Homo sapiens: one gene and its partner. The protein of the gene in region 1 purifies or fractionates together with the protein of each later gene. This does not show direct contact. Each region holds a gene or a part of one and is shown in the gene's direction. Other genes may lie near its edges.

Region 1 (3,817 bases):
ATGTATTGATTCAAGATTCAGAGAAAATACAGAAAAATGTTTCACAAACCTTGGCCTCTATGCAAATGCAAAGATTCTTATTTTGGATGGCAAAAGACAGTCTCTGAGATTTAAAAAAAAGGCAAGCACGTCCTCATTTTTTAGTGACAGATCACCTCCATCAGAGCCCAGTCCCACTCACCCCTGCTTGAGACATTGCCTCTGCCAGGTGCGGCAGCCAGCGGGGGCTCTGTTTAGTTCACTTGCTGGTAAATTTGGCTTCTTCAGCAGCACAGAGTAAGACATTCACGGCTCAGCTTTTTTTTTTTCTCTGAGACAGAGTCTCACTCTGTCACCCAGGCTGGAGTGTAATCTTGGCTTGCTGCAGCCTCTGCCTCCTGGGTTCAAGCAATTCTAGTGTCTCAGCCTCCCGAGTACCTGGGATTACAGGTGCCTGCCACCTGGCCTGGCTAATTTTTGTGTTTTTAGTAGAGACAGGGTTTCACCATGTTGCCCACACTGGTCTCGAACTCTGGACCTCAGGTGATCTGCCCACCTCAGCTTCCCAGTGTGCTGGGATTACAGGAGTGAGCCACCGCACCCGGACTTCACAGCTCAGCTTCTAAGCAAATCAGATCTTTTAGATTTAAGTCATTTGCTTTTTGGTTGTCCAGAAAGTTGATTAATTAAAGTTGATTTCCTTCCTGAAGGAATATTTTCTGCCCTCAGAGAGAGGGCTTGTTTGGTTTGGTTTCTGTGCCACTGTAAGCAGATGCGTACAGCCCTGGCGGTGCAGACCAGCAGAGGTGTTGAAGGCACCTCTTCCTCCTTTGCCGGCTCCTTATTTTTTGCTCCATTGACCTTTATGGCTGTGACTGGAAGAAACAAGAGATGACACTTTGAATCAGTAGATGTCTTTGTAGTTTACAGGTGGTTTTCTATTTTTTTTGAGACAGTCTCCCTCTGCCGCCTAGACTGGTGTGCAGTGGCGCAATTTCCGGTCTCTGCAACCTCTGCCTCTTGGGTTCAAGTGATTCTCCTGTCTCAGCCTCCTGAGTATCAGCCTCCCAAAGTACTGGGATTACAGGCATGAGCCATTGTGCCCAAACCCTTATTTCATTATTGTTCCTAACAGCTCTGGGAGAGAGGAATTACAATTTTCCCCATTTTATAGATGAGTAGACTGAGGCTTGGAGACAGAACTGCTGAGAAGAAGTAATGCAGTACTTACAAATATCTGTGTGGGTGTGGGTGTGTGCTTAGCAGCAGGTCATGGCAGCAGATGGCGTGTGTTACGCTGCTTTAGAATCAGTCATTTGGTGGCTGGGCACAGTGGCCTGTAATCTCAGCACTTTGGGAGGCTGAGGTGGGAGGATCCTTTCAGGCCAGGAATTTAAAACCAGCCTGGACAACATAGCCAGACCTGTCTCTACAAAATAAACATAAAAATTAGCCAGATGTAATGGCATGCACCCATAGTCCCAAGTACTCAGGAGACTGAGACAGGACGATCTATCAAGCCCAGGAGTTCAAGGTTGTAGTGAGCTATTGTGCCACTGCACTCCAGCCTAGGCGACAGAGTAAGACCTTGTCTCAAAACAAAAACAAAAAAACTCAGCCATTTGGTAACTATGGTTGGGCTTAGGGCTTGAAAATTCCATGGTTCTGACCCTCCGGCCATTCATTCTGATGAGCTCTGGGCAGTATCCAAGGCCCCGGCTGAGCAGATGGTGAGCGCTGCCCTCAGAGTGTCCTCTGCACTCCCTCCTGTATTGTCTCCTATATTGTGCTATGCATGAGTGGTGCCTCAGTCAACTAAAAGAGTTACTTCGCCATCGGAGACCTATGTATTGATTACCTGCCCTGCCTCTGGGACAGCCTTTTAAAGTTAAAATGGCCCTGGGGACCCGGGTAGTGCCTCCGTCACCCCCAGTGGTGTGACTTCTAGAACTCTCCTACTTTGCCTGAGCAAAACCTCCCACAGTCTGCCCAGACCAGAGCGTGTCTAAATGATGTGGGTTTTGTTGCAGCAAAAATTGGATGCAGAGTTTCAGAAAAGACTGGAAAAGAATAAAATTGCTGCAGAGGAGCAGACCGCAAAGCGCCGGAAGAAGCGGTAAGCGGCATGGCCTAACTGTGATGACACTTAAGGGCCAGGGGTGGTGGCTGGGTGAGCTGTCCTTGCAGTCAGTAGTAGTTCCTCTGCATGACCTGTAGGGGTCATGAATGTAGAGCAATGACTTCTACTACCTGAGCAGAGAGCAAGTTCCTTATGACCCTCCAACTGGTTACAGATTGTCCAGAGCTTGCAAGTCAGGACTTCAGTGATCACATTGATTTCTGTGTCTCCTTCAGGTCTGTATTTTTTTTTTTTTTTGAGACAAAGTCTCACTGTGTCCCCCAGGCTGCAGTGCAGTGGCACAATCTCGGCTCACTGCAACCTCCGCCTCCTGGGTTCAAGCAATTCTCCTGCCTCAGCCTCCTGAGTAGCTGGGATTACAGGTGCCTGCCACCATACCCAGCTAATTTTTATATTTTTAGTAGAGACGAGGTTTCACCATGTTGGTCAGGCTAGTCTTGAACTCCTCACCTCAGGTGATCCGCCTGCTTCGGCCTCCCAAAGTGCTGGGATTACAGGCATGAGCCACCACACACGGCCGCATCTGTATTTTAACAAGGTGCTGCAACCAAACTTCCCATTTAGCATGTTTCTTAAATTACGGTTTATGACTCCCTCAAGTGACTACATGGTATATAGGCTGTATGTTTATATGTGTATCTGTGTGTTTACATAAGTGGTCTCTCAACTTTTACAATGAGAGCTGAGGAGGATTCTAACAACAGCCCCTAAATATCTTGAAATGAAAAAGCATCTTTAGGGACCAGGCATGGTGGCTCACAGTTGTAATCTCAGCACTTTGGGAAGCCAAGGCAGGAGGATCGCTTGAGCCCAGGGGGCTGAGGCTGCAGTGAGTTATGATCGCACCACTACACTCCAGCCTGGGTGACAAAGTGCAACCCTGTCTCTACAATAATAATAAAAAAAATTTTTTTTTAAAAAGCACCCCTGTTATTTCTGAGGTTGCTTTGCCTCAGGGCTCCCTGGGATTTGCTCTTGAATCCTAATGAAAGCAGCTGATAAGGACGGACTGGCAGAGTCATGCAAAAGTTTTGGTTGGTGCAAAAGTAACTGCAGTTTTGGACCGTGAATTTTAGATCATTGTAACTAGGCTCAAACCATGTTTATTGATCAGAATAGGAACCATTACAATCAACACATTTTCACCAATGAGAAATAAGTTTATTTCTATAACGTAAAAATCCATGCTCCGGGATTTGAAGAAGTCTTGGAAAGCATTTTCTGCATCCCGCTGGTTGTGGAAGTGCTTTCCCTGCAAAAAGTTGTCAAAGTGCTTGAAGAAGTGGTAGTCGGTTGGCAAGAAGTCAGGTGAATATGGTGGATGAGGCAACACATCGCAGCCCAATTTGTTCAACCTTTGAAGCATTGGTTGTGTGACTCGTGGTCGGGCATTGTCCTGGGGAAGAATTGGGCCCCTTCTGTTGATCAGTGCTGGCTGCAGGCATTGGAGTTTTCAGTGCATCTCATCGATTTGCTGCACATACTTCTCCAGTGTGCTGGTTTCACCGGGATTCAGAAAGCTGTAGTGGATCAGTCCAGCAGCTGACCAGCAAACAGTGACCATGACCTTTTTTGGTGCGAGTTTGGCTTTGGGAAGTGCTTTGGAGCGGCTTCTTGGTCTAACCACTGAGCTGGTTGTCGCAGGTGTCATGTAAAATCCACTTTTCATCACATGTCACAATCTGATCGAGAAATGGT
Region 2 (3,817 bases), on another chromosome or scaffold:
GATTATGATCCTGAGAACAGCAAAAATAGTTCAAGGTAACTAAAAATAAATTCTCATAGCCATAATAGGATGGAAGGAAATTGTTATTTACTATGTATGGGCCACTGGATAAGGCTATTAATCATCACGATTAATTATCACAATTCCCTCTGAGAGACACTGTTATCTCTCCATTCCGAAGGTAAGGAGAAAGTGAAAATCTCTTCCTTGCTCCTCCTCTTGCTGCAGACTTGCTCTCACAACCCTCTGTTACATCCTCAGCTGTCTGCAAAATCTCAGGTTCAGCTTTCCTGACTCCATTGTTTCATGGAGAGCCTTGTTCACGTGCCGGCTTCAGCGCAGGCTGTTTAAGTGTAGTCTTGTGAAGAGAGTTTTAACATATAGATGCTGCATCTGGGGGCTCCCTCCTCAGCTACCAACACTTTTCTGTCCCTCTCTTAGGCTGTGATTGGTGTGGTGCCGTCAGAGGGTCTCTTTGGAATGTAACTATACCACTTATGCTGGGGTGGTGGGGAGTGAAAATATTTTTAAGACCACAAGCTGAGATGGGGGCACCCTCATGTTTTATGTCAGTTAAGCCATTGCCAAACAACTGGAGATCCTAAAGAGCTGGCATCTGTCTTTGAAAGTCACCCAACCTATTATGGGGACAGTCCTCTCACTAAAATCCTGAGGCCAATGGGGTCCCATTCATTCATTTTCTCCTGCCCCACCTCCATCTCCATGTCGTGTAAGTGAGAACATTATCATCAGTTCAGGAGTTATTGACCGTCAGCATACAGGACTTCAGCTTTCAGCAAATTCTTGGCTACCTCTTCCTGTTTTCAAGCTGACATATATACAAAGAATATAAATGAATATTGAGGCTAACTTAATTCAGAAAAAAAATAAAACGTGGTTAGCAAAAAAAAAAAAAAAAAAAATCAAGCCTCCAATTTATGTATCTTAGTAATTTGTTGGCACTTCTCTTAGAGTACCTTCCCTATTGTTTTAGGTTTGCTTTCCCTTTACTCTCTCCTATTAGACTATTATCCCCGTGACGGCAAGGATATAGTGTCTAACTGATTTTCTCATCTCTAGGTGCCTTTCATGCTTAGTAGATCAATGGTGAATTAAAAGGTTTCAAAGTTACTTTATATAATAATGAAATTTAGTTTCCTGCATTGTATTCATGTTCCTATTTCTATCTGTTAGCAATGGTGATTGCAGATCTTCAGCAATGAAGAATGGGTGGCTCATTTTTTTTTTCTTCTCGTTTTTTTTTTTTTTTTTTTTTTTGAGACGGTGTCTCGCACTGTCGCACAGGCTGGAGTGCAGTGGTGCAATCTTGGCTCACTGCAAGCTCTGCCTCCCGGATTCACAGTATTCTCCTGCCTCAGTCTCCTGAGTAGCTGGGACTACAGGCGCCCGCCACCACGCCCGGCTAATTTTTTGTATTTTTAGTAGAGACGGGATTTCACCGTGTTAGCCAGGATGGTCTTGATCTCCTGACCTCGTGATCCACCCGCCTCGGCCTCCCAAAGTGCTGGGATTACATGCGTGAGCCACCGCGCCCGGCCTCTTCTTTTTTTTTTTTTGAGACAGAGTCTTACTCTATCGCTCATGCGGGAGCACAATGGCGTGATCTCAGCTTACTGCAATCTCTGCCTTCTGGGTTCAAATGATTCTCGTGCCTCATCCTCCCGAGTAGCTGAGACTACAGGTGCCGCGCCACCACACCCAGCTAATTTTTGTGTTTTTAGTAGAGATGGGGTTTCGCCATGCTGCCCAGGCTGGTCTCAAACTCCTGAGCTCAAGCAATCCGCCAGTCTCGGCCTCCCAAGGTGCTAGGATTATAGGCGTGAGCCACCGTGCCCAGCCCAGCTCATATTTTATAAATTAGCTAAACAAATAAAGCTCTGGACATCCGGGAACTTATGATTGAAATAAAAAATGGCCTATTATATTTTGATTCAAATTTGTTTATTATATTTAGATTTCTATTTTGTGACATGTTTTGGGGTTCTTTTTTTTTCTTTTTTTTTTTTTTTTTGTGAGACGGAATCTCGCTCTGTCACCCAGGCTGGAGTGCAGTGGCGTGATCTCGGCTCACTGCAAGCTCCGCCTACCGGGTTCACGCCATTCTCTTGCCTCAGCCTCCCCGGAGTAGCTGGGACTACAGGCGCCCGCCACCACGCCTGGCTAATTTTTTGTATTTTTAGTAGAGACGGGGTTTCACCGTGGTCTCGATCTCCTGACCTCGTGATCCGCCCGCCTCGGCCTCCCAAAGTGTTTTTGGGGTTCTTAAGAAGATAAGGTATAAGCTTTTAAAAAGTTATGAAAAACTTTAAAAAGTTATAAAAAATTTTTTATAAATTTATATTTATTGTTACTTTTAACATACTGTGAATTTTATACCCAGGTCAAAGACTAAGTGCCTTTTCATCCAAATGGAATTCTGTGATAAAGGGACCTTGGAACAATGGATTGAAAAAAGAAGAGGCGAGAAACTAGACAAAGTTTTGGCTTTGGAACTCTTTGAACAAATAACAAAAGGGGTGGATTATATACATTCAAAAAAATTAATTCATAGAGATCTTAAGGTAAGTGGAAAATGTACTTTATTAATTGATATATATATAATATAGTAATTTTAAAATATATCTTCTCAGCTGGGCACAGTGGCTCACGCCTATAATCTCAACACTTTGGGAGGCTGAGGCAGGCAGATCATCTGAGGTCATGAGTTCGAAACCAGTCTGGCCAACATGGTGAAACCGTGTCTCTACTAAAAATACAAAAATTAGCTGGGCATGGTGGCGTGCGCCTGTAATCCCAGCTACTCGGGAGGCTGAGGCAGGAGATTCGCTTGAACCTGGGAGGTGGAGGTTGCAGTGAGCCAAGATTGTGCCACTGCACTCCAGCCTAGGTGAAGAGTGAGACTTGTCTCAAAAAAAAAAATTATATATATATATAAAATAAGATAGATAGATATATATTTTTTTCTCTAGTTTTAGAATAGTGGTTGATTGATAGTTATGAGAAAATGGTATCTGAACATTTCCATGCAAATAATTACTGTGACTGGCACAGCCAACTGGCTGCTCTGCCCCTGTTCCTCCTGCCTCCTCTAAGTGACTCAGCTTTATTTGAGAGGCAGAGGGGACTCTGTTGACTGTTGCTTTAGGAATATGGTTCCCTAATCTCTCAGTCATTACTCGCGAGGGCTGTCACAGCTACTGGGTCCAGAGTCTAATACTGTCTTGGTTAAGCATTTCAACCCCATGATTGGAAAATTGCGGTAATCCCGGACTGGGAAAGTGTATCATCCCTTAGTATTTTCATTTTCCTCTGGCTTTTATGGTCCGGACAAGGAGTTTCCCTATTTTTTACTTCTCATTAAAATGACAGAAGGTGAGAGACAGAATAGCCCTTCACAGCCTTTCCTCCATTCCCTATTCCCTGTGACTTGCCTAAGCCTGTCACAAGCTGGCCGTCCTGAATCCTGTCCCTGGACCTTTGCTCATGTTCTTCTCTCTCATGGGACACTCTTCTGCCTGCCCCCTTTGGTTGTAATTCCTTTACTGAGCCTTTCCTGATCACTCTGGAACTGCCTTTTTCTGTTCTAGGCAGAAGTACCTTATTTATGTGGCTATCTGCTTATCCCACCCCTCTAAAACAGCAAGGAATAAGGAATGAAACAAAAAAATTCCTTGAGAGAAATAAGTTCCCATATACACAGTTGTTTATTGGGCTCAGAGAGGAATGAGTAGCCCTTAAAAGGTATTGCTTCCGTGGTCTGCCCAGGGGCTGGATGTCTGATGCATTGGTGTTTTGA

The links.
Region 2: the proteins of PRKRIP1 (region 1) and EIF2AK2 purify together in Homo sapiens (affinity purification with western blotting, with the first as the bait; one study listed by BioGRID). This does not show direct contact.

What each region holds. Positions count from the first base shown.
Region 1 is NC_000007.14:102,402,589-102,406,405, forward strand, and holds part of PRKRIP1 (PRKR-interacting protein 1), read left to right. Parts: intron 1-2,009; coding exon 2,010-2,095; intron 2,096-3,153; exon of another isoform or gene 3,154-3,817.
Region 2 is NC_000002.12:37,118,724-37,122,540, reverse strand, and holds part of EIF2AK2 (interferon-induced, double-stranded RNA-activated protein kinase), read left to right. Parts: coding exon 1-35; intron 36-2,401; coding exon 2,402-2,582; intron 2,583-3,817.